3 linked regions of the Homo sapiens genome follow. The main gene of each other region encodes a partner of the protein of the gene in region 2 in a complex. Each region holds a gene or a part of one and is shown on either strand. Other genes may lie near its edges.

Region 1 (8,464 bases), on a different chromosome or scaffold from region 2:
ATAGGTGGCCTGGTGTCACACCAAGCCACCAAGCCCCCAGCCTCTGATCCCCCATGTCCCGCTGCCCCAAAGGCACTGACCCCAGGTACACATGCAGTGCCCAGTGCAGCAAGGCGAAGGCATCCGCAGCTTCTAGCTCAGGCCCTGCAAGGAGGTTCTGCAGGCTGCGGCGCAAACCACTATGCAGCGTGTGGGCCCATAGCTGGACCACGTTGTACTGTGGCGGGCAGCAAGGCGCTACTAGTGCCTCAGCTGTGGCCAACTCGACTGGCAGGGCCACTCGCAGAGCCTCCAGCCACCCTGGTAGGGCCCCTGGTGCAGGCAGCAGAGGTGACCCAAAGTGGGCCTGCTCCAGGCCCTCCTGTAGTGCCCTCAGACAGCGCTGACGCCAGTCCCGGGGGACCTGGCCCAGGGGGGTTGTTCGTCCAGTCTCCACCTCCGCCACACGCACAGCAGCCACCAACAGGGCTGGGTCCTCCCGTGCCAGCTTCCCTGCGGCCCCTGCAGCTGCTTCCACAGCCTGGCCCAGTGCCTCGAACAGAAGGTCCAGCCCCTGGAAGACTGGCAACTCCAGGCCCCCCAGGGGTGCCCACGTATCCTCTCGCAGCTGCTCCAGCTCCCGAAGGCTCACATATGCCTCCAAGAACTGTTGGCCATCAATCAGAGTCTGTGTGTGGGACACTGCAGCCGGCACTAATGAGAGTGAAAAGGAGACGGCCCTGGGTCTCAGCCTTCCCACCGCCTCAATGTGTACAGCAGGGGATACTGAGGCCCAGGGCGGGGGTGATGCATAAAATATTTAACAACCAGTAGAGTAAGCTGGGCACAGTGGCTCATGCCTGTAATCCCAGCACTTCGGGAGGCCAACGTGGGTGAATCACTTGAGGTCAGGAGTTTGAGACCAGCCCGGCCAACATGGTGAAATCCCATCTCTACTAAAAATACAAAAATTAGCCAGGCATGGTGGCACATGCCTGTAATCCCAGCTACTGGGGAGGCTGAGGCAGGAGGATTGCTTGAACCTGGGATATGGAGGTTGCAGTGAGCCGAGATCACACCACTGCACTCCAGCCTGGGTGACAGAGTGAGACTCTGTTTCAAAAACAAAACAAAACAAAAAATGAACAAAAAACCATAAATAAATAAATAAATAACCAGTAGAGTACTGGCCAATCTAAGAGGATCTTGGCAATGTCCTAAAGACCTGGTGGGCCAGAGGTCAACCCATGAACTCATGGAATATGAGGAAGCTGAGGATCCTGGAGGGAAGGCAGGGGAAATCGGGGGGTCCTGCCAGTACTCGCTCAGCCACTCTGTTAGGGAAGAGTTTGAATATACTGATAACCAGGTGGCCAGAGTCACATGACTGGGTGTCTGTCCTGACTCAAGCATCCCACACGTGGGAATCCCAGGATGAGCTGCCTCATAGGCCATGGGAAGCCCGGGCTACTGTCTGGGAGGTCCCTGGTGTGCTGCTCTATGCAGTTCCCCATCTAGTGCCCCAGCCCCTTGATTAGGGATGGGTGTTTGTGGACTGACTATTGGAGGCTGAGGCCCAGGGTCCCTGCATGCTCACCTGCCCGCAGCCGAGGCAGCAGGTGAGACAGGGCCTGCAGTTGCTTGTGCTGGGCAACCCGCTCCCGTAGGGGCTCTAGAGTCTGTAAGGCCTGGGACATGCCCTGGAGCAACCCACGGGCCTGGCTCAGGGCCTCCCGGGTTCCCTGCACCACCTCAATGGCCTGGGCCAGCTGCCACACACCAGTCTGCACGCCTTCCAGGTATGACTGCATCACTGACTGTGGAAAGATGGAGCCATGAGGCTGGGCCAGCCCTGCAGCACAGTCCCAGCACCCGCACCCCCTGCCCCATGCCCACCTTGAGGCGCGATTCCAGGGAGCAGGTACGCTGCACCTCGCGGCTGCGGTACTGGCCTAGCCTGGCCAGCTGCTCCGGCCGGTAGAAGATGCCTGAGGCCCACTTGAGCGCTGCACCCCGGGCCAGCTGCTCTGCCCGCTCCTGCTCTGGCCACTCAGGTCCTGGGAAGGAAGAGCCTGGGCAGCCGTGTAGTCAGGGAGGAGGGCCCAACGACCCCAGTCCCAGCTTTCTTATTTATTTATTTATTTATTTATTTGTTTGTTTATTTGTTTATTGAGATGGAGTCTCGCTCTGTTGCCCAGGCTGGAGTGCAGTGGTGCAATCTCGGGTCCCTGTAACCTCCGCCTCCCGGGTTCAAGCGATTCTCCTGCCTCAGTCTCCCGAGGAGCTGGGATTACAGGCGCGTGCCATCACGCCCAGCTAGTTTTTGTATTTTTAGTAGAGACGGGGTTTCACTATGTTGGCCAGGTTGGTTTGGAGCTCCTGACCTCAGGTCATCTGCCCATCTTGACCTCCCAAAGTGTTGGGATTACAGGCGTGAGCCACTGCGCCCAGCCAGTCCCATCTTTGTTGCCATCATTCCTCCCCTAGTCCACCCAAAAGGTTCATACCAGGGGACAACGCCGGCTGCATCTCATCCTTGGCTGCTGAGTCCATTGTGGGCCTGGAGGAGCCAGAGCTGAGGTGGGCCCGGGGCAAGCAGGCAGAGTAGATGCCCCTGTGAGCTGCTGCCTCTGTCTAAGCCCTTCTGAGAGGAGGAAGGAGGTTCTTCCCGGCCCCCTCGGGAAGTGAGAGGGAGCGGGTGTGATGCGGAGGGCACCTGGGAGGCTTTGCCTGCTAGGTTTCCCAGTCGTGCCCCTGCAGATGTCAAGCGAGACAGAGTGGGCACAGGCCTCCACTGGACCCTGGTCCTGCTCTGAGCTGCACAGGACAGTTTGGTACAGAACTTACCAGATTTGATCAGGCGTCCAGTTCTCCCTCCAAAAATGACCTTGGCCTTGAGAACAGCCCTCTCCCCAATGCAGCTGGGCACGCCTGCCACTTGCTCACAGGGCCTGGGCAACTCCAGCTGACTCCAGCGTGCAGCTGAATTCCTCTCCCCAAGGAAGTCTCTCTCCCACTCCCCACCCAGAAGCCCCTTCTTCCCACCGAGGCTCCTCCCTCCCCAAGGCCATCAACAGAAAGGAAGGAAGCTGAGTCTCTGGCATTTTATTCCCAACAGGAAAGAGTGTCTGCACAGAGGGTGGGGACAGCTGGGCGACACTTCCCTGAGGGGCGGGGGGGTGGGGTGTACTTGTACTCAACCAGTCTTGACCAGCCTACCCAGAACCTCTTAGTGCTCAGGAGAGGAGATAGGGATTTGCTAGACTTGGCCTCAACCTGGGGTGGTGGGCAGAGTGTGCAGATATGGATGCAGACGACATCAACAGCACAGGATGAAAACTGTGTTGGCCAGCCTCTGAGGAGGATGTGTACCTCTGCGGAGGAGTGAGAGGTGGCAGGCTCTTGTGAAGAGGGGTGTGGTGGGGGGTGGTAGGAGAGGGTCATGAAAGCTGTGTTTATCTTTTTTGTTTTAGACAGGGTCTTGATCTGTCACCAAGGCTGGAGTACAGTGGCACCACCATAGCTCACTGCAGCCTTCTGGGCTCAAGCGATCTGCCTGCCTCAGCCTCCCAAAGTGTTGGGAGATTACAGGCGTGAGTCACCGCAACTGGGCAGCTGTGTTTATCTTGAGAGTTATAGGGAGCCAGGGAAGGGACTATAAGGTGGTAATTATTTAGTGGATGTTCAGTCCACCACCCAAATCCACCCTTCAGGACAGAAGTGCTCATTCTCCAGCTGCCAGGAGTGTAGGCTACTGAGATCACACCACTGAGTCTCTCAGTCAATATTGGGGTGCAAAAGCATGGTACCATCGTGTGAACATGAACCCTTCAGAAGTGCTACCCCAATTTCAGAGATCCTAGTGGGATAGGCTGAGGCCTATAATATAATTGCATCTGCTCAATTCTGCTTGTCTTAATCCCTTAAAGGTGTGGATCCTGACCAGGTGCGGTGGCTCACACCGGTCATCCCAGCATTCTGGGAGGCTGAGGTGGGAGGATCTCTTGAGCCCACGAGTTCAAGACTAGCCTGGGCAATATAGTGAGACCCACATCTCTAAAAAACTAAAAATAAATGAGCCGGGCATGGTGGTGCATGCCTGTGGTCCCAGCTACTTGGGAGGCTGAGGTGGGAGAATCGCTTGGGCCCAGGAAGCTGAGACGGCATTGATCTTGCCACTGCACTCCGGCCTGGGCAACAGAGTGAGACCCTGTCTCAAAAAAAAAAAGTGTGGATCCCCAACAAACTTGCTGCAAAACCCTATCTCGAGTCCCATTTCCCAGAGGACCTGATCTAAAAGAAACAATAATAAATAGTAACAATGTTAAAAGTTACAAAATGACCGTATCACACATTCCTGCATGCCAGGAATGACTGAGTGCTTTACTGATATTTACACATAGGTAAACACGTTTGCATTGGCTGAAGTGTTCATAACCCCATAGTCTCTGAGCACTGTACTGTGAGGACAAGACGAGCGAAAGATGAGGCTAGGACCATGGGTGGAACAAGGTGGACAAGGTAGATATAGTTAGTGCTTGCTGTTTGGCAGGAAGTGAGGGATAGGAATAGATGGGGTGACCCCAAGACAGTAGGGCAGCCTTTAGGAACAGGTTTGATGTGGCAGTAAAATGAGTTTGAAATATATAAAAGAATAAATAAAGAGAAAAAAATGGAAAAGGAACAGGTTTGAGGGAGCAGATTGGATTAGTCAGGTAGTGTGGTCTCCTCTCCCAAGATGGGGACTAGGCAGAGTTAGTGATGTTGGGGCAGATTGGCAAGGAAAGTTCCGATGGCGTCCCCTTCTCTACTGCCAGGGCGGCCCACTGACGCCCTTCTCATTCCTCCCCAACTTCATCCCAACTCCCCGGTCTACCCAGGTAGTTTTCGTCTTATTCGGAGGCTGGACATTTGCTACTGGTCCCTGAAGTTTTGCGGCTGCACCCACAGACAGCAATAGCGCCACGTTCCCTGGAAGGCGCACGGGACGGAAGCGGAAGCAGTAACGCTGGCTCCGGCTGCCCGGCGGCCAGGAACGGAAGCGGAAGTGGCGGCGGCGCCGGCCTGGCCTGGCCTGGCTGAGGGGAGGCGGCGGGCGGGCGCGATGGCGGAGGCCGGGCCACAGGCGCCGCCGCCCCCGGGCACTCCAAGCCGGCACGAAAAGAGCCTGGGACTGCTCACCACCAAGTTCGTGTCCCTTCTGCAGGAGGCCAAGGACGGCGTGCTTGACCTCAAGCTGGTGCGGCCTGGGCTAAGGGGAGACAAGGGAGGCTGGTGGACCAGGCCTGGGCCGGTAGCGGGAACCCCGGGGGCGGCCCAGCTGGGTCCTCCGAGAGCCGGCCGCCATCGTGTGCTTTCTCACAGGAGAGAAGCCGGGGGATGTTTCATTCATTCGGCCGAGGCCATCGAGCTACAGCTATGGGCCAGGCTCGGGCTGCAGGTGTTCGTCCTCGTGGCCCTTCCTGGCTGGCGAGGAGAAGAGCTGCCTATGGGACAGAGCTGCGGTCCTGAGCTGCAGTAGCGCCTGGGAGGCACTACAGGGTTGGAATCCAGATTACTCCCTTCCCAGACCACGTCTCAGGGTGGCTGGGGGTACACCCCAGAGTGGGGCTGAGCATTCTCCATTCTCTCTGCCAGGCAGCTGACACCCTAGCTGTACGCCAGAAGCGGCGGATTTACGACATTACCAATGTTTTGGAAGGTATCGGGCTAATCGAGAAAAAGTCCAAGAACAGCATCCAGTGGAAGTGAGTGGGCATAGTGGGAGGGTAGTAGAGTCTCCCACCCAGAAGTGTCGGGCGTGGGGTGGAGGGTGCCGAAGAAGGCAGGGGCCATGGGACCCAGAGTTCTCAGCAGTCCCTCTCAGCCCCACTCCCTGGGCTCAGGGGTGTGGGGCCTGGCTGCAATACCCGGGAGATTGCTGACAAACTGATTGAGCTCAAGGCAGAGATCGAGGAGCTGCAGCAGCGGGAGCAAGAACTAGACCAGCACAAGGTGTGGGTGCAGCAGAGCATCCGGAACGTCACAGAGGACGTGCAGAACAGCTGATATCCTCCTGGCGGTCCCTGCTGGGGGGAGTGGGCAAGGGGCCCTCTGGTTCAACTTGCCCTGAGTCCTGTTCCTCTTGGGAGTTTGTCTTATAGCCACTGGCCATGGCCCAGCCTCAGGCTCCCTCCTCAGAGCCCCTCCCCTTCCACTCTTAGCCTGTGATCCCTCCCCCGGTGGACCTGAGTCCCCAGAACGGTCTCTGAGGGCCTGTGTGTCAGACCTTAGCTAAAGAATTGGGTCTTTTCTGTAGTCTGCCATCTGTCACCATAGGGCATCAGCCATTCTCCTTAACCCTCACACTTTGGCCTACGTCACTCATGAGGACATCTGCAGATGCTTTGCTGGTGAGCAGAGCCTGGGTAGGGGTAAGGGGGTGGGCTGGGCTCAGCCAAAGTCCTGAGCACTGGGCTCAGTGTCTTAGGAGAGTTCTGTCTCTTAAGAGGGTTTCTGGGGCCTGCTCAGAGAGGAACCAGGCAGGGTAAGTCTTCTGTCTGAGTGTCACTGGGACCCTGTGGAGGTCAGCTATACCAAAAGGGTACAGAAATTCTGGAGTGGGTCCCTGGGTCTGTTCCCATCTCTACTGTTTCCTGGATTTGGCTTCTTGGGTATGATAGAGGCACAAGGGGGAGAGAGGGAGAGAGGATATGTGTGTATTTGCTTGTGTGCAGGCTCTTACATGCAGGGCATGGGGGTGCCCACTTCCAACTTGTTAGTTTAGTTGCATTGTGAATACAGGATCTGTTCCTTTTTTTTTCTTTTTAAGAGATGGGCTCTTGCTGTGTTGCCCAGGCTGGTCTTGAACTCCTGAGCTCAAGCTGTCTTCCCTCCTCAACCCCCTAAAGTGCTGGGATTATGGGTGTGAGCCACTGTGCCCCGCTGATGTGTTTCTTCTCCATCTTGTATGCTCCTGACTGGTCATGGGAAAGGGATGTTGGCCTTGGCTAGAACACCCTCACCTAGGGATCAGCCATCGGTAGAGGAATGAGGTGCCTGTGGCCAGTGATCTTTCACTCCACATAATTGAACCCAGATTTCCTGGTTACTGACCCTGGGCTCTCAGGAAGAGAAGAGCTTTAGCTCTGCCTGGCCACTATGGGGGATGGGTGAGGCCCACTGTCTAGTTCCTCAGGGACCGTGATCTCCTGCCTTGCTCCAAAAGGCAGGCACCTCTGTTCCCAGCTCAGATTGAGCCCATGGGCTCTGACCCATTCTCCATGTCATTCTAGGAGATACCCTCTTGGCCATCCGGGCCCCATCAGGCACCAGCCTGGAGGTGCCCATCCCAGAGGTGGGTGCTTAGCCCAGGCAGGCGGGGTCAGCTGAGGGCGGGTGCTGGCTGTGGAGCCTGATAAGTCCTGGGTGGGGCAAGTAGGGGGAGGCCTGGAGTTTGGGGTTATCTAGGAGGATGGGCATCCTGGGTGGGAGAGGACACTGTGGTCCTGACCCGGAGTCGGGCAGGAGCCAAGCCTGCTTACAATTCTACCCATCTCCCATCCCTTACCACCCATCTCTAGGGTCTCAATGGGCAGAAGAAGTACCAGATTCACCTGAAGAGTGTGAGTGGTCCCATTGAGGTTCTGCTGGTGAACAAGGAGGCATGGAGCTCACCCCCTGTGGCTGTGCCTGTGCCACCACCTGAAGATTTGCTCCAGAGCCCATCTGCTGTTTCTACACCTCCACCTCTGCCCAAGCCTGCCCTAGCCCAGTCCCAGGAAGCCTCACGTCCAAATAGTCCTCAGCTCACTCCCACTGCTGTCCCTGGCAGTGCAGAAGTCCAGGGAATGGCTGGCCCAGCAGCTGAGATCACAGGTGAGGCACCATGGGAGCTTGTGACAGAGGCCCAAGAGGTAGTATCTCTGTGTTGTGGAACACCATGCTCAGAGTTGGAAGAGACTCTTCAGGTTGGGGATTGTCCTTTTCCTGACCACCTAGCCTTCCCTTGCTATGGTAATGAATGAGCCTTTTTTGTTTTTGTTTTTGAGACGGAGTCTCACTGTGTCCCCCAGGCTGGAGTGTGCAATGGCGCGATCTTGGCTCACTGCAACCTCTGCCTCCCAAGCTCAAGAAATTTTCCTGCCTTAGCCTCCTGAGTAGCTGGGATTACAGGCGCCCACCATGCGCAGCTAATTCTCGTACTTCTAATAGAGATGGGGTTTCACCATGTTGGCCAGGCTGGTTTCGAACTCCTGACCTCAAATGATCTGCCTGCCTCGGCCTCCTGTAGTGCTGGGATTACAGGCTTGAACCACCATGCCTGCCTGAATGGGCCCTTTTTAACAGGGAACCTCTGACTGTGGGAAGAGCCATTGCTGGTGGCAGTTTTCTCCCCCAGATCCACATCCACTGGTGTCTCAATTGCCCTGGTAGCCCGTCTTGAAGTATGGCCACAGCAGACATGTTGACCACGAGTCTTCTTCTGTAGGTCTTGTGTCCCTGT
Region 2 (8,470 bases):
CTCACTGCAACCTCTGCCTCCCGGATTCAAGCTATTCTCCTGCTTCAGCCTCCCGAGTAGCTGGGATTATAGGCGCCGGCCACCACACCTGGCTAATTTTTATATTTTTAGTGGAGATGGGGTTTCACCATGTTGGCCAGGCTGGTCTTGAACTCCTGACCTCGTGACCCACCTGCCTCGGCCTCTGAAAGTGTTGGGATTACAGGTGTGAGCCACCGCGCCTGGCCCCTATGATTATTATTTTTTTTTATTGTTTATTGTTTTGAGACGGGAGTCTCGCTCTGTCGCCCAGGCTAGAGTGCAGTGGCGCGATCTCGGCTCACTGCAACCTCCGCCTCCTGGGTTCAAGCAATTCTCCTGCCTCAGCCTCCTGAGTAGCTGGGATTACAGGTGCCCGCCACCACGCCCAGCTAATTTTTGTATTTTTAGTAGAGACGGGGTTTCACTATGTTGGTCAGGCTGGTCTCGAACCCCTGACCTTGTGATCCACCTGCTTCGGCCTCCCAAAGGGCTGGGATTACAGGCATGAGCCACTGTGCCTGGCCTGATTATTTTTAATAAGGACCATTTAGTCTCCTTCTTCCTTTATATTATACCTCTTCTTTCATTTTTTCTTATTTAACTTAGCTAGGACACACTCAAAAACGGTAAACAGCTACTATATCCCTGCCTCCTTATTGAGTTTCTGATTTTAAGGTGAAAGCCTCTGCCATTTCACTGAAATGTATGGTGTTGTTCTCTGATGATTATCTTGATCCAATTAAGGAAACATTCTTTTATTTCTAGTTTACTAAGAATTTAAAAAATTCAGGGTGGTTATTGAATGTTATACAATGTATCTCTAGAGACTATCATTTGGTTTTTCTCCTTCAATCTAATAAATTACACTAGTAGATTTCTTAATGTTAAATCACTGTTTCGGTTAAACCATATACTTTGTCATGATGTAAATTCTTTTTACTACCACATTGCTGGAATTTGATAACATCTTTTTTTTTTTTTTTTAAAGAGTCTCACTCTGTTGCCCAGGCTGGAGTGCGGTAGTATGACCTCGGCTCATTGCAAACTCTGCCTCCCGGGTTCAAGTGATTCTCCTGCCTCAGCCTCCTGGGTAGCTGGGACTACAGGCGCATGCCACCACGCCCGGCTAATTTTTGTATTTTTAGTAGAGACAGTGTTTCACCATGTTGGCCAGGCTAGTCTCAAACTCCTGACCTCAGGTGATCCACCTCCCTCAGCCCCGCAAAGTGCCAGGATTACAGGTGTGAGCCACTGCGCCCGGTCTGATAACTTCTTAATTCTTTTTATTTAAAAAAATTTTTTTTGTAGAGATGAAATCTCACTATGTTGCCCAGGCTGGTCTCAAACTCCTGGTCTCAACCCATCCTCCTGCCTCAGTCTTCCAAAGTCCTGCGATTACAGGTGTGAGCCACAGCACCAATAACAACTAAATACTCAATTTTGCCTTCATAACAAAATCATAGCAAGAAAGGAAGTTTCCCTTCTCTTTTTTGGGTACTGTTTGTCTTGGGTTTTAGTATAAGAGTTATGCTGCCTTGTGGAATAAACTGGGAAAGGGTCTCCTTTTTTTGAGATATTTTGGTCTCTCTAAAATCTAGCCAGTTTTGGGTACCCCATCTCATTCTTTTCTTCCTTCCAGTGGTGCCCCAACAGCACCATCAATCATTTTACCATGAGGATTTCTCACACTAGCTCTCAAGGTTCCTCATAAAGTGGGCTCACAATGCTGATCTCCAACAAAGCCTTTGTGTCATTCAACTTTATCACATTACTTACACATGTCACAGACCTTCCCATTTTCAAGGCTTTGCTAATTTCATGACATTTGCCTTGTTAAATCCTGACTATTAGTGTTTGGGCTGGTACTGGGTGTTGATTATGGCACAAGGGAACTAACATTTCAGGCAGAGACTGTGTACCTGCTTAACACCCTTCATTTTATTTAACCATCAGAATCCTGGGAAGTTTTGTTATTTTTATTTGCTGGATAGGAAAATAAACGTTATACAATATACACTAATAAACGGAGGTGCCATTAAATACCAGTACTGCTTGATTCCAAAGTGACTGCTGCCTCCCCTACACTGTTTCACCTCCTCCATTATGTTCCCGAGGTAGTCTCTCATGCTGACCTGTATGTCCTCCGTACTCCATTAGCAAATTATACACTGTATCGCACCATCTTACATTTACACTCTTGTATTTTCTATTTTCGTATATGTAGTGCTTGTCGCACTCACAGCAGTTGATAATAATCTCTCAGAATAATTTTTTTTTCCCCTCAGAATGATCTGTCAGCGTCTGTTCATCCGACTCCGTATTTGGATATCATATAAATCGCGGGAAAAAATAAAAGGTGATTAAATACAAATAATTTTGACTGTGTTAGTCTTAGCTGCGTGTTGCAAGAAATGCAAAACGTCTTTCAAAATAAGTTTAACTCTCAATGAATCTCCCTGTGGCTTTTTAGCGACACTGCAAAACTAGTGCCTAAAAACACAGTGACTTGGCATTTGTGACTACTGATCACCTCCTCACTCAAGCACATCAAACAGCGGGATATCCTGGAAGTCGCACCTACAACCCGGACTTCCTAACAAGGAAAGCTAGACGAAGGGACGGTCTCTCCCAACCGCAGCGCGATGCGGGTCCTCCCCCCATCAGCTTCAGTCCGATGGAACATTCCGTGCGATCGCTTTGACCGGGCGCCACTCGGCGTCACGTGGAACTGGAGCGCCCTGGCGGAGCCCGGCGGAATGACGCGGGCTTGGGTTGCCAAGGGGAGGGACGAGGCGCCGCGGAAGAGGCGGAGCGAAGGAAGCCGGCCGTGGGGCGGGGTGCGGAGCGCAGGGGCGGGCAGAGAGGGGCGCGCGGGCGGGGAGGGCCCAGCGTATTATGGGATGCGGCGGTGGAATGGGGCTGGGCGCGTGATTTTGAACAAACCCTGGTCTGTGTCTCGGAGGCGCCGCCGCCGCCGCTGCTGCTGGGAGCCCAGGGAGCGCCGCGCGACCAGGAGGCGGCGGCGCCGCCGGCTTTGGTGAGTGTCAGCCCCCGGGATGGGGGCTCCTGGGCGGGCTGGCGGGAAGGGGGAACCGGCCCCCGCTGCGAGTGCCTGCGCGGGCGGAGAGCGCTGGACCGCTCCCTCCGGGAGCCCGGGCCGGTGGGCCTTGGCGGGGAGCGGGAACCCGCCAGCGGGGTCCGCCGCGCCCCTTCCCTGAAGCTGGGTTGCGGGGGGCGAAGGATCCTTGGGGCTCGGTCTCTTCCCGTCGGCTCCCGAGAGGGTGGCTGTCACCCGGCAGGGCCAGCGCTCGGCCAGCCGCCTGCCCGGCGGTCTGGAGTAAGGGCTCCTGCGGCTGTTGACACGCACACTGCGCGACCCAACAAGCCACCCGTGGCGGCCCCAGGTTTCTGGGAACCGGTTTTGCTGCTGTGTCATTTTGTGCCAGTCCCTCCTCTCCCTACTGCCCGCCGCCGCGTTCTTCCTATGCCCCTTTGTACAGGCTCTTGTTCGTGCGTGTCCGTTTTCCTCGCGAAGCCCACCAGCCAAATGTCATAATGTTCCCGAGGTGCACGGGGGAAGGGAGCGGGCCGGGACTTAGCTTGGCCAGCAACGGTAAACAACCAAGCAGAGTGCGGATGGACGGGGCCGTCAGTGGGGAAATGAAGTTTAAAGATGAAGTAATTGAGAACACTTTATACTCTCAGCATCTGGTAGTCTGCATATAAAAACAGCAATTGGGGTGGGTGGTGGACAGCCCTTGTTGAAGGCTGAATCTACCGACTTTTATATGGAGTTGCCATTGAAACAAGGTAGGGAAATGAAATGACTTTTTCAACTTCAACTTCAACCTTACTCTTCCTACACTAACTTAGACAGTAGAGTGGCCCTGTTCGCAGCCTTGAAATTCAGTTTGCCCAGAGCTTATGTTGTGGTTGAATGATACAGAATTCAGCTTTTGGATGGTTAACTCTTTCTAAAATTGACAAAGGCAGCCAGTTTCCTTTTTTTTTTTTTTTAATGCTGATCTCTTCAGAAGCCTTGCAGCTTATGTTTTGTTATTTTTTAAATGATTAAGAATTACCTCTGTTCTCTTTTGGTTACTTATTCAACTGACTGATGACAAGAGCTGGTAACTCTTACCTACCTAGTAGGTAGCTCTAGGATCTTGTTCTGAAGCAAGCTGTTTATTTTTACTGTACAGAACAAATATATCAGCAGCAGATGGTTTTTTTTTAATTTGATGACTTAGATCCTAAAAAAACATTTGGCAAATAATTTTAGCTAAGAGTTATATTTTCAATATTTTAGAAATCGATCATTCATGAATGTTTCTACAATTAGTTCAATCATTTCAAATCTAGTTGCGCTTTGACGTCTTAAACCGATGACAGATTGGAAGTCGCAGTGTTCATGGACAGAAATGACCAGATAAATTAAGTTGGAGAGGAAGATAGCTCAGAACTTTATTTTTTTAAATTAGATATTTTGACCACTTCATCTGCATGAGGATTGCTGCCTGTAATTGACAAAGGTGTCAAAGGTCGAACATGCATATGGAAATAGCTCATCCTGTCAAAGTAGTTCTGCGGGTGGGGTAAAATGTCAAAGTTGGTGAATGACATTAAAGGTCTTTCACAGTGTTTTTAGTGCCTGAGATAGCCACAGTGAATGAAACGCATTCCACCATCTCTCTCAAGTTGCTGCTCTGAAAATGAAAGAGTTTGGGTTCTTTATTGTCCTTATGCCACCCTCCGCATGGCTTTTGGTCTTGCAAACAAAAATATGCCGGACTTGGGACCCCGCAGGTGGCGCGACTTCCTTTGGCGTCCCTGCGGGGGCCCGTGCTCCGCCCGGGGGTGAAAGGTCTCGGCGTAGCCCGTGTGCACTTGCACGGCCCTTGTGCGTTTGAAGGTTGGCGGGGCGGCGGGAGGCTTCCCCGGATATGTGGGTGTGCGCCTCCCGGGTGGGGCGGGCGGGGAGGGGAGGAGGAGGAAGGGGGAGGTTACTGGTGGTGGCGGCGGCGGCGGCGGCCCGGGCTCCGGCTGTCGGGGAAGCTGCTGAGCTGTGATGGTGATGACGAGGTGAAAATGGCGGATCTTTCGAAATACAATCCCGGCCCCTGACATACCAGAGGCGGCGGCGACGGCGACGTCGCCACCCCGGCTCCCTTCTCGGTCCCCGGGTACCCTGGAGCGCTCCAGTTTGGACAAACTGGGAAAGGAAGCTGCTGGCCAGAGCTATCGTGCACGGGCAAAACAAGCCCCGCCGGGGCTCGGGATTGCCCAGGACCTTCTGGAGCCCCTACCTCGGAGCCCGAGGGAGGAGAAAGCGGCAGCCGCTGGAGGTAGAGGAGGATGGGGTACCCGAGGGCTTCTCTGTCCGGAGATCTCTTTATTTGGGGGGATGGGGGTGGGTGGGGAAAGAATTGCGCGGTGGATCAAGGAATGACTTGTCCGGAGTGCGAAGAATCAGTAGCCTCGTCATGACATCAACATTATTCTTTGAGTGTTAAGAGGGCTCCAGTTTGCTCTTATACCTAAGGCTGCTGCTGAGGCCTAGAGGAACCGCTAGCACTTATCATGATTTCCTGATATAATGTTTAAAACAGCCACTCTGGCGGGTGTTGCTTTGATGGTGTTCAGCAGTTCTTGGGGTTGTACGTTTCTTTAGGGAGGCAGAGCATTGGCATTTTATCTGCATTTAAGATCTGTGTCTTAGATCCTAGTCTGTAACTTGTTGGGTTGTGGATGTTCACATTTTATAGAATAGGGACCAGTTTTGTAAGAATTAGAAAAAAAATTTTTAATGCTCTGTTATCCTTAGAGTAACTAACCTCTTTGCCCCTGCCATTTGGCATATAACAATTGAGATACTCTCAGTTATATTTTATACTCATGCTTTTCAGGGAAGTTCTTCTCTATACTCACCCTCCTGCCCCCGCCAACCTAGTTCATGAATTCAGAGAGTAAAGTTATGAAAAATTTTGCTGTAGATTTTATAATGCAAATGAAATACAGCTCTAGGAGCTCTCTTTTGGTCCTGAGTTTTACCTTCATTGTTAAGAAGGAGAGTTGCGATGGGGTGATGCAAGCATTTGTTGTGAGTACATTAAGTTGGGAAAAATAAATTGAGACCTCTGTTATTTCTAAATCACTAAATGCTGGAGTGATTAGCCTAGCCCTTTGTTTAGAGAGCTGGATTGATTGACTATAACAGCCACTGTTTTATTAGGTTATCTGAAGACCCATGTTAAGTTTTAGGTTATGCTGAAAGATCCGTAAGGAGTCTGTCTCCTTGCACACAACACTAGTGTTACAGAAAAGTTACATGTGAATCAAATTTTTAGGCTGGGCAAAAAAATTTTTATACATTAATTTGGACCCTATGCTTTTCCCCCAGCTTTTTTGGGTCAATGACATTGAGTGTATAATGAACAGAAGGATTAGTATTGAGGAATGCCCATGGGTAATGTTTATGATTAGCCCTAAATTTCCGTATTCAAATTGTCTACAGAGAGTATATGTGATATTATTTCCTTATTCAAATTGTCTACAAAGAGTATATGTAACACACTGTGCCATAGTGTGTCATATATCACAAATTTTGTAGTTTACTTAGAGGGGAAATATTTTGTGTGAATAGGTGTGTATAGTTTGTAGGTCTGGCTTTCACTTACTAGAAGAATAAGAGACCCAAAAAAATTTTTAGGAGAAATACCTTAGAGGTACTCAGAAGGTTTAATGATGACGATAATGATTATTTTTTAAAAATAATTTGTCTGATGCTGTATTATTCAGTAGGTATTTGGTTTTGTCTTTTTAAAATTACAGTTTTTATGTTGCAGTTATTTGACCCATGCCTTATAGCTGCTGACTCAGTAGTAAGACTAAGAATTTTAAAAATAATTAAAATAGGGAGATTAAAAAGCTTTTTCATTGGCTTTCTTTTAATCACAGAGGGCTATTGTCTCTTTGTGATTCTTTGTGATTGTCTTTAAAGACCAGTTTTCAGATTGTCCTGGTTAGAACAATTGTGTATTAATAATTAAAAGTGTGTTAGAAATGAAGCAAGAATTATACCACCAGAGATAGTCCAGTGTTCATTTTTTGGGGGAAGAGTATTATAGATTTTCACTACTTTTTCTTTATTTTTTTCCAAGGCAGAGTTTCACTCTGTCGCCCAGGCTAGAGTGCAGTGGCGCAGGCTAGAGTGCAGTGGCGCGATCTTGGCTCCCTGCAAGCTCCGCGTCCTGGGTTCACGCCATTCTCCTGCCTCAGCCCCCTGAGTAGCTGGGACTACAGGCGCCCGCCACCACGCCGGGCTAATTTTATTTGTATTTTTAGTAGAGACGGGGTTTCACCATGTTAGCCAGGAAGGTCTCCATCTCCTGACCTCGTGATCCACCCACCTCGGCCTCCCAAAGTGCTGGGATTACAGGCGTGAGCCACTGCGCCCGGCCGATTTTCACTACTTTTTCAAACATTATTATTGGGTGTCTATTAGGTGTCATATAGTATGCTAGGGATAGTGGATAAAATAACCTCAATATCATTACTTCAGGGAACTTTCAATTTAAGAATCACTGGAGGTGAAGTTGGAAGGATCAATTCAGTGGGGTCTTGCTGCAGAAGGCCTTAAGAGTTACAGAAAATGTAACTTAGTGTAGGATAATGACAATCTCAGAGATATACTTCAGAAGATAAATCTTGTACATGTAGCTTTTATGTAGAATGCATTGTAGGTAAGGGGAGATGGAGGTAAAAACACCATAGTAGGCTTCAGGAGTTGGAGATTTAGACACAATTGGTTACAGGAGGATAGAGTCATGGTGAAGGTGTAATCTGCATGATATATGACAGATTAATATTTCTATGGAAAGAGAGATGTCAAAGATAATACAATTGTAAGCCCTGGTGTTTGATAGAATTTTTTTTTTTTTAAATGAGATGGGTTCTCACTCTGTCACCCAGGTTAGGGTGCAGTGGATCTCAGCTCACTGCAACCTCCGCCTCCCAGGCTCAAGTGATAATCCCACCTTAGCCTGGTGAGTAGCTGGGACCACAGGCTTGGGCCCCCACGCTCGGTTAATTTTTTGTATTTTTGGTAGAGACAGGGTTTCACCATGTTGGCCAGGCTGGTCTCAAACTCCTGAGCTCAGGCGATCTACCTGCCTCACCCTCCCAAAGTGTTGAGGTTACAGGCGTTAGCCACCACGCCTGGCCATTTAGTAGACTATCGGATGCCGTAAAACCACAGAGAAATCAGGAGGAGAAGCTAATTTAGATAAACAGGAAAATAACTTTGAGTTACAGCATACCTCATAACTATCTTCACAGTAACCCTATAAGTAAATGAAGCTCAGAGATGTTATTATTGACTTGGATTACATGATAAGCAACTAGGAGAGCCATGATTTGGAAACAGGTCTTTTCTGATTTGAATCTCCAT
Region 3 (5,969 bases), on a different chromosome or scaffold from region 2:
CGTCCTGGCTCCACCCCAGTGTGTACCGTCTCCGCTGGGAGACCCTGTCTTTCTGACTGTGCCTTTCCCCTTCAGATTTGAGTATCTGTTTAATTTTGACAACACATTTGAAATCCACGATGACATAGAAGTGCTGAAGCGGATGGGCATGGCTTGCGGGCTGGAGTCGGGGAGCTGCTCTGCCGAAGACCTTAAAATGGCCAGAAGTCTGGTCCCCAAGGCTCTGGAGCCATACGTGACAGGTCAGCAATGCCCAGACAACCTGGCGTGGCTGTGTGAGGAATGGCCCCCAGCCTCCGACGGTGCCCTCCCCTCCCGGCTCGGGATGTGTCTTGCTGAGATCAGGCCCACGTGTGTAGGGCCAGGAGCAAAGACAAAGGGGCTGTGAGGGGGATGAGGGCAGGGGTGTGGCTGGGGTGGGGTCCAGCCAGTGCCGTGACCCACTGGATATGGGGGCCTTGAGTCCACAGGTGGCTCGTGTGGATTTCCTATGTGGTTTGTGTGAGGAGGTGCTAAGTCAGGATTTTACCCTCCAAGTAGGCCCAGAAGTAGAAGTTGAGATTCTTTGAGAAGTGCAGTTGGATTGCTGATCCCACCCACTGATGGTAGCTGATTGGTCACTAGGGCAAAGTCACCAAGAAAAAGCATTTCAGAGTCATTGGCGTCCTGCTCCGGAGGGCCGGGAGCACAGGAGCTTTTGTTGAAGGAGCTTTTTTTCTGTTCTGGTGAATTCTTTCCTTGGGGGCCGTAGGGTCCCAGCCACTGACAGCAGGATGGCTTTAAGGTGAGAAATTGTGAAGGTGTCATATCTGCTGATCCTTCTCTTGTTAGCCTAAACTTGGGGTGTAGATTTATTCCCTGAGAGGGTCAGAGATTCCTCCCTGAGCTCTTAGACTGCCCCAGATCTTGTGAAAATCTGGCTGGTCCATGTTGTCAGGTGACAGTGGGCTCTGGCCGCCCACGTGGGCTGGGCCCTGACCCCGGCCTCTGTCCCGTGCTTCATGGAGCTGCCAGGATGGGCTGTGGGAAGAGGGTTTCAGCTTGACACTTTGATTCGGTTCCGTTTCACGATGGGTATGATACTGAGGCAGCAGCACACGTGTGCCGTTTGTAAGTCAGTGTGTGCAGGTATTTATTGCAAGGCTGTTCTTGCCTTTTTAGAGAAGACAGGCTTATGTGACTGCACAGCGGGATGTCCTGCTCCGTGGCGCAGTGTGGAAAATACTGGACAAGCGAAGGATATCCGGAAGCTTCTACAGCCGTCTGTCCTGTGGAACTGCGCGTCATTTTGTTGGTTGCCTGTGCGTCTTGTGTTGTTTCTGTTTCATGACCATTCGCTTATTTTCTTTCCCTTTTCAGAAATGGCTCAGGGAACTGTTGGAGGCGTGTTCATCACGACGGCAGGTTCCACGTCTAACGGCACAAGGTTCTCTGCCAGGTGACAGTCGTTGAGGGTGTGGGAGAGGCGTCATCTGGGCCTCCCCCGGGGTCCAGGGGCCAAGGCAGGGCAGCCGTCTCAGGTGTGGCCATCAGGTCTGTGGCTGCTCTGACGTGGCTTGTCTGTCCAGGCAGTGGGGCCCCGCTGGCTTTCCCTGTGTGGAGAGCTGCTTTTCTTAGTTGGTTTCTGCTCACTAAAAACTGAAAGTAATACATGGTGGTTTTTTTTTCATAGTATCACCTAATAAGTAAAGTAGGAATGAAAACCACCCAAATCCTCCTGTCCCCGGCAGCCCAAGTAACAGCAAGTATTTCCAGGTTTTTTTTCCCATTTTTCAGAACGCGTCTGCGGTCACAGCGCACGTATTTTTCAGAACGCGTCTGCGGTCTGGGCGCAAGTAGTTTTCAGAACGTGTCTGCGATCACAGCACACATTTTTCAGAACGCATCTGCGGTCATGGTGCATGTGTTTTTCAGAATGCATCTATGGTCATAGCGCATGTATTTTTCAGAACGTCTGCCATCACGGCGCACGTGTTTTTCAGAACGCGTCTGCGGTCTCGGCGCACGTGCTGCGATCACAGTGCATGTATTTTTGCGAACGCGTCTGTGATTATGGTACACGTATTTTTCAGAACGCGTCTGCAATCACAGCGCACGTATTTTTCAGAACGCGTCTGTGGTCACAGCACACATATTTTGTTCCGTGCATTTTTCAGCTTACATTTTATTGTATGAATATATATTGTTTCTATGCTATTAAAGGGCCTTTATTTAAATAAATTTGTATTTAATCTTTGACCTGCAATCCCACAGAGTAGAATGGTGTCCCTAGGTATTGATCTTAGTGCTTCAAAGATAAATATAACTTTTATGGTAAATATTAACAAAACAATGATTTTATTAACTTTTATATTGCATTGTGATACAATATATAGTATTACTTTATATTAATCTTAAGTGTTAATAAAATCTTTAATTAGAAATACAAGAACTCAGTAACCTATGGGTCCGGGTAACAGGGCTCGACATAGTGAGTTTCAGTGTGCTTGAGCCTGCGTTGGGATGTGCTGTGGCCATGAGATGTAACAGGTGTGTCGGGCACGTGTAGCTTCCTGGCCAGCTCTGGAAGTGCAAAGCCAGCCTTGGCCTCCTCACCTGTAAGGTGAGACTGGTGATTGATGAGTTACTGATCTGTGGCAAGGATCAGTGAGGTGGTGATGGAAGAAAGGACTTTGGTGACAAGCTTTTGACAGAGGCCGGTTCTCCTTCTGTTGTAGCTATGTGTGAACGTGTGGCGGTCAGTCTGTAAACATGTTTAATGCTGCTTCTTCCATGAGGTGGGATGTGGGTATTTTTAGGACTTTTATCATCACATAATCCTTTTTATGGATGTGATTCTTCAGACTTGTCAGTTTTTCATAACAATGGAAACAAAGCTATTACCATTTCTTACGAAATACCGATTTTCATAGTGGCATGATGAGACATTTTATACAAGTACCTCATGAAAGGACATCTAGGTAGTTCCCAGTTAGAATAAAAACTGCAGTGAGCAGCTTTACAGCTGAATTTCTCGCCATTTCTGACTTGTTTCCAAGATACAGAATTACTTCATCAAAAGGCACATTAACACATTTTTATTGTAGTGTTAATAAATACCATTAAAATGTATTAAAATATGTACATATGGTTTTATGTTAATTGAAAACATCTTTAAACATTAGGAACGTAGTGAGCTCTGGTTGGTGGTAGGTTTTTGTGGTGCTGCCAGCCCTCTGGGTTCTCAGTCCCCGCTGCCAGATTCGACCCACGCTCTGGACTCCATCCTGTCCTGCCCCGGGCTCTCTTTTTTCCTGTTGCTGGTTATGAGTGAAAGTCCCGGAGGGAGGGATCTAATGGTTTTACAGTTTGTTCCCTCTGGGGCACTGCTCCTGATGGAATGATGAGTGAGGGAGAGGCAGCGTGTGGCTCTGCTCAGCCTCCTGTTTCTGTCGTTATGGGTTCCAGGAGACAGGGCCAGAAGAGAACCAGACAGAGATGGAGTAAGTGCCAGAGCGTTGGCGTGCTGTAGTGCAGACACTCAGCCTCCCCGTTCTGTTTGTGTGACTGACAAAACCCACACCTGTGGGGCACAGCCTGTCATTTGACCACAAGCCCTGAGGCGGGGGGAGGCTGGGTGGGCCGCCTGCACTGACGGCGCCATCCGCCTCCTGCCTTGCAGTGACCTGACCAACGGTGCAGATGGGATGCTGGCCACAAGCTCCAATGGGTCTCAGTACAGCGGCTCCAGGGTGGAGACTCCGGTGTCCTACGTCGGGGAGGACGACGAGGAGGACGATGACTTCAACGAGAATGACGAGGACGACTGACGTCCTCCCCACTTCAGATTCGGCTTCAGGAAAACGTTTAGCGAAAAGAAACTTTTTTTTTAATGTGGGTTTTCTGTTTCCTTTTGGCCTACTCCCAAGAAGATATTGGTAAGCTATTGAATTTAGATATGCACCTCTGATAAGCAAGGATTGTTTCCCGTAGGATTAGGACGTGCTGTGGATGTGTGTTTTGATACCAGTGTGCTGATGCAGAGCGTTTATTTACTTGTTAGGATTTTGTGTTTTCATTTGCTATTTTTCTTTAAGTGCAGAGTTCATTTTTGCCCCTGAAAAGTTTTTGCTGAGTTTGCTGAAGAAATTGTATTTCAACCACATCCATGAAAATAAAACACCTCCTGTTGTGGATGGTGAGCCCCTGATGCCGCTTATTTGCCGTGAGTTTGGACGGCACCCCTGCTGGCGGATAGCAAGACTCTGTGGAGTTTGTTCAGTGGTACGGTGTCCAAGCAAACAGCAGAATGCAACTTTCTAAACAGCCCCAAGCAAACAGCAGAATTCAACTTTTTAAACAATAAACACCATCAACCTTATTGACTTTATTGTCCCTTAAATTATATTGACTGTTGTGATTCCATCAAGTTTGTACACTCTTTTCTCTCCCTGTTTTGCAGCAACAAATTGCGAAGTGCTTTTGTTTGTTTGTTTTCGTTTGGTTAAAGCTTATTGCCATGCTGGTGCGGCTATGGAGACTGTCTGGAAGGCTTGGAATGGTTTATTGCTTATGGTAAAATTTGCCTGATTTCTTACAGGCAGCGTTTGGAAACCTTTTATTATATAGTTGTTTACATACTTATAAGTCTATCATTTAAAGACATGTACTGAAACAAATGTATTTGTTTCATAAGCATCTTCCTGTAATCTATTATAAAATTGAAATTAAATATAGAGAATGTTTTAACAATTTTTTAACTCAAAATTTGTCAATCATTTTTAATAGTTCTTTTTTTATAAAAAGAAAAAGGAATTTAAGGACAGGCAGTAGTCTCTTTTAAAATTTATTCACAAAACCCATTAACTGCACAGTTGCTATTAGCTGCCTGTTCTAAAACGATAGTCTTTTTATTGAAACACAAATAAACTTTTCTGTAATATTTTATGGTATATAAAGAGACTTTAATTGTTTGACTTGTTTAACTTGGCACTGTTAGTTTTTATTAATAAAACGCGCATGGGCATTTTAAACAAGCTGTGTTTCTCTAATTCAGGATTATTATCTAGAAATTTGTCTGTCTTGTTGGTTTTACTTTATACTTGAGTGAGAAAGTAGGTTGTTAGGCCCAGACGCGGTGGGCCCGGGTGGTCCCTGTGGGTGCAAACCCCACCACCACATGTTGTCTGAGGCACATCCTCCGGGAGCCCACCCTGAAAAGGTGGAAGGTGGCCAAGGGTGGAGGTCTTGGTGGACACAGGGCAAAGAGGCACCTTCCTTTTCGGTGCCTGTGGTGCAGAGAAAGATAAGCCAAGTTCCTTGGCCTTTTTTCACAATGAAAATTGAGACAAAATTTAAAAGTTTGACTTTGAGAACAAGAATAAGATTGAGAGGATTCTGGGAAGATGGTGGAATAGGGAGCACCAGGAATCTGGCTGCCCAGGTAGATGTCTACCTCGCGGGCAGGATCTGCCTGATGCAGCTGTTCTGTAACTACGGAATCTACTGAAGGCTTAAAGCTTTCAAGGGAGGCTTGGTCAGCACATTGCAGTTAATTTTGGTCCATTTCAGCTTTCTACCCCGACCTCTGTTCCTTCATTTTTCTCTTTCCCCTTTTGGGAGCCAGACATTGAAGACTAGGACGTATAAAAACAACTGTGTTGTATATATGGGGCTGCCCAGGGAGAGGCTCAGAAAAGACCCGAGAAGACCTTACGTTTACACCTCAGGCTGAACCATGGCACAGGTACAGCCTAGAGCTGTCAAAAAAGCAATAAACACAGCAATAACAAAAATGGCAAATCCGGGGGAACAGGAGACTTCTTTTCAGAGTTGTACCACAGTAATAGATTCAGATGTCCAGTTTTCAACAAACAGTGACAAGGCATACCAAGAAATGGCAAAGTATGGCCCATTTAAAGGGAAAAAAATAAAAACAAACTGTCCTTGAAAAGGATCTGTTGGCAGGTACACTAGACAAATACTTTTAA

What was found. Proteins that work in one complex are often made in the same cells at the same time.
Region 1: LIN54 (region 2) and E2F4 share a complex: the UniProt entries of both Homo sapiens proteins name them as parts of the DREAM complex.
Region 3: LIN54 (region 2) and TFDP1 share a complex: the UniProt entries of both Homo sapiens proteins name them as parts of the DREAM complex.

The regions. Positions count from the first base shown.
Region 1 is NC_000016.10:67,187,145-67,195,608, forward strand, and holds the start of E2F4 (transcription factor E2F4), read left to right. Parts: upstream 1-5,010; 5' UTR 5,011-5,083; coding exon 5,084-5,218; intron 5,219-5,616; coding exon 5,617-5,726; intron 5,727-5,864; coding exon 5,865-6,026; intron 6,027-6,327; coding exon 6,328-6,371; intron 6,372-7,253; coding exon 7,254-7,315; intron 7,316-7,541; coding exon 7,542-7,836; intron 7,837-8,464. Other genes in the region: EXOC3L1 (exocyst complex component 3-like protein), read right to left, coding at 81-693, 1,577-1,796, 1,876-2,036, 2,487-2,532. UniProt on the Homo sapiens protein: Transcription activator that binds DNA cooperatively with DP proteins through the E2 recognition site, 5'-TTTC[CG]CGC-3' found in the promoter region of a number of genes whose products are involved in cell cycle regulation or in DNA replication.
Region 2 is NC_000004.12:83,007,380-83,015,849, reverse strand, and holds the start of LIN54 (protein lin-54 homolog), read left to right. Parts: upstream 1-5,026; 5' UTR 5,027-5,366; intron 5,367-8,470. UniProt on the Homo sapiens protein: Component of the DREAM complex, a multiprotein complex that can both act as a transcription activator or repressor depending on the context. In G0 phase, the complex binds to more than 800 promoters and is required for repression of E2F target genes.
Region 3 is NC_000013.11:113,636,459-113,642,427, forward strand, and holds the end of TFDP1 (transcription factor Dp-1), read left to right. Parts: intron 1-75; coding exon 76-242; intron 243-1,161; coding exon of another isoform or gene 1,162-1,359; coding exon 1,360-1,438; intron 1,439-3,661; coding exon 3,662-3,809; 3' UTR 3,810-5,015; downstream 5,016-5,969. UniProt on the Homo sapiens protein: Can stimulate E2F-dependent transcription.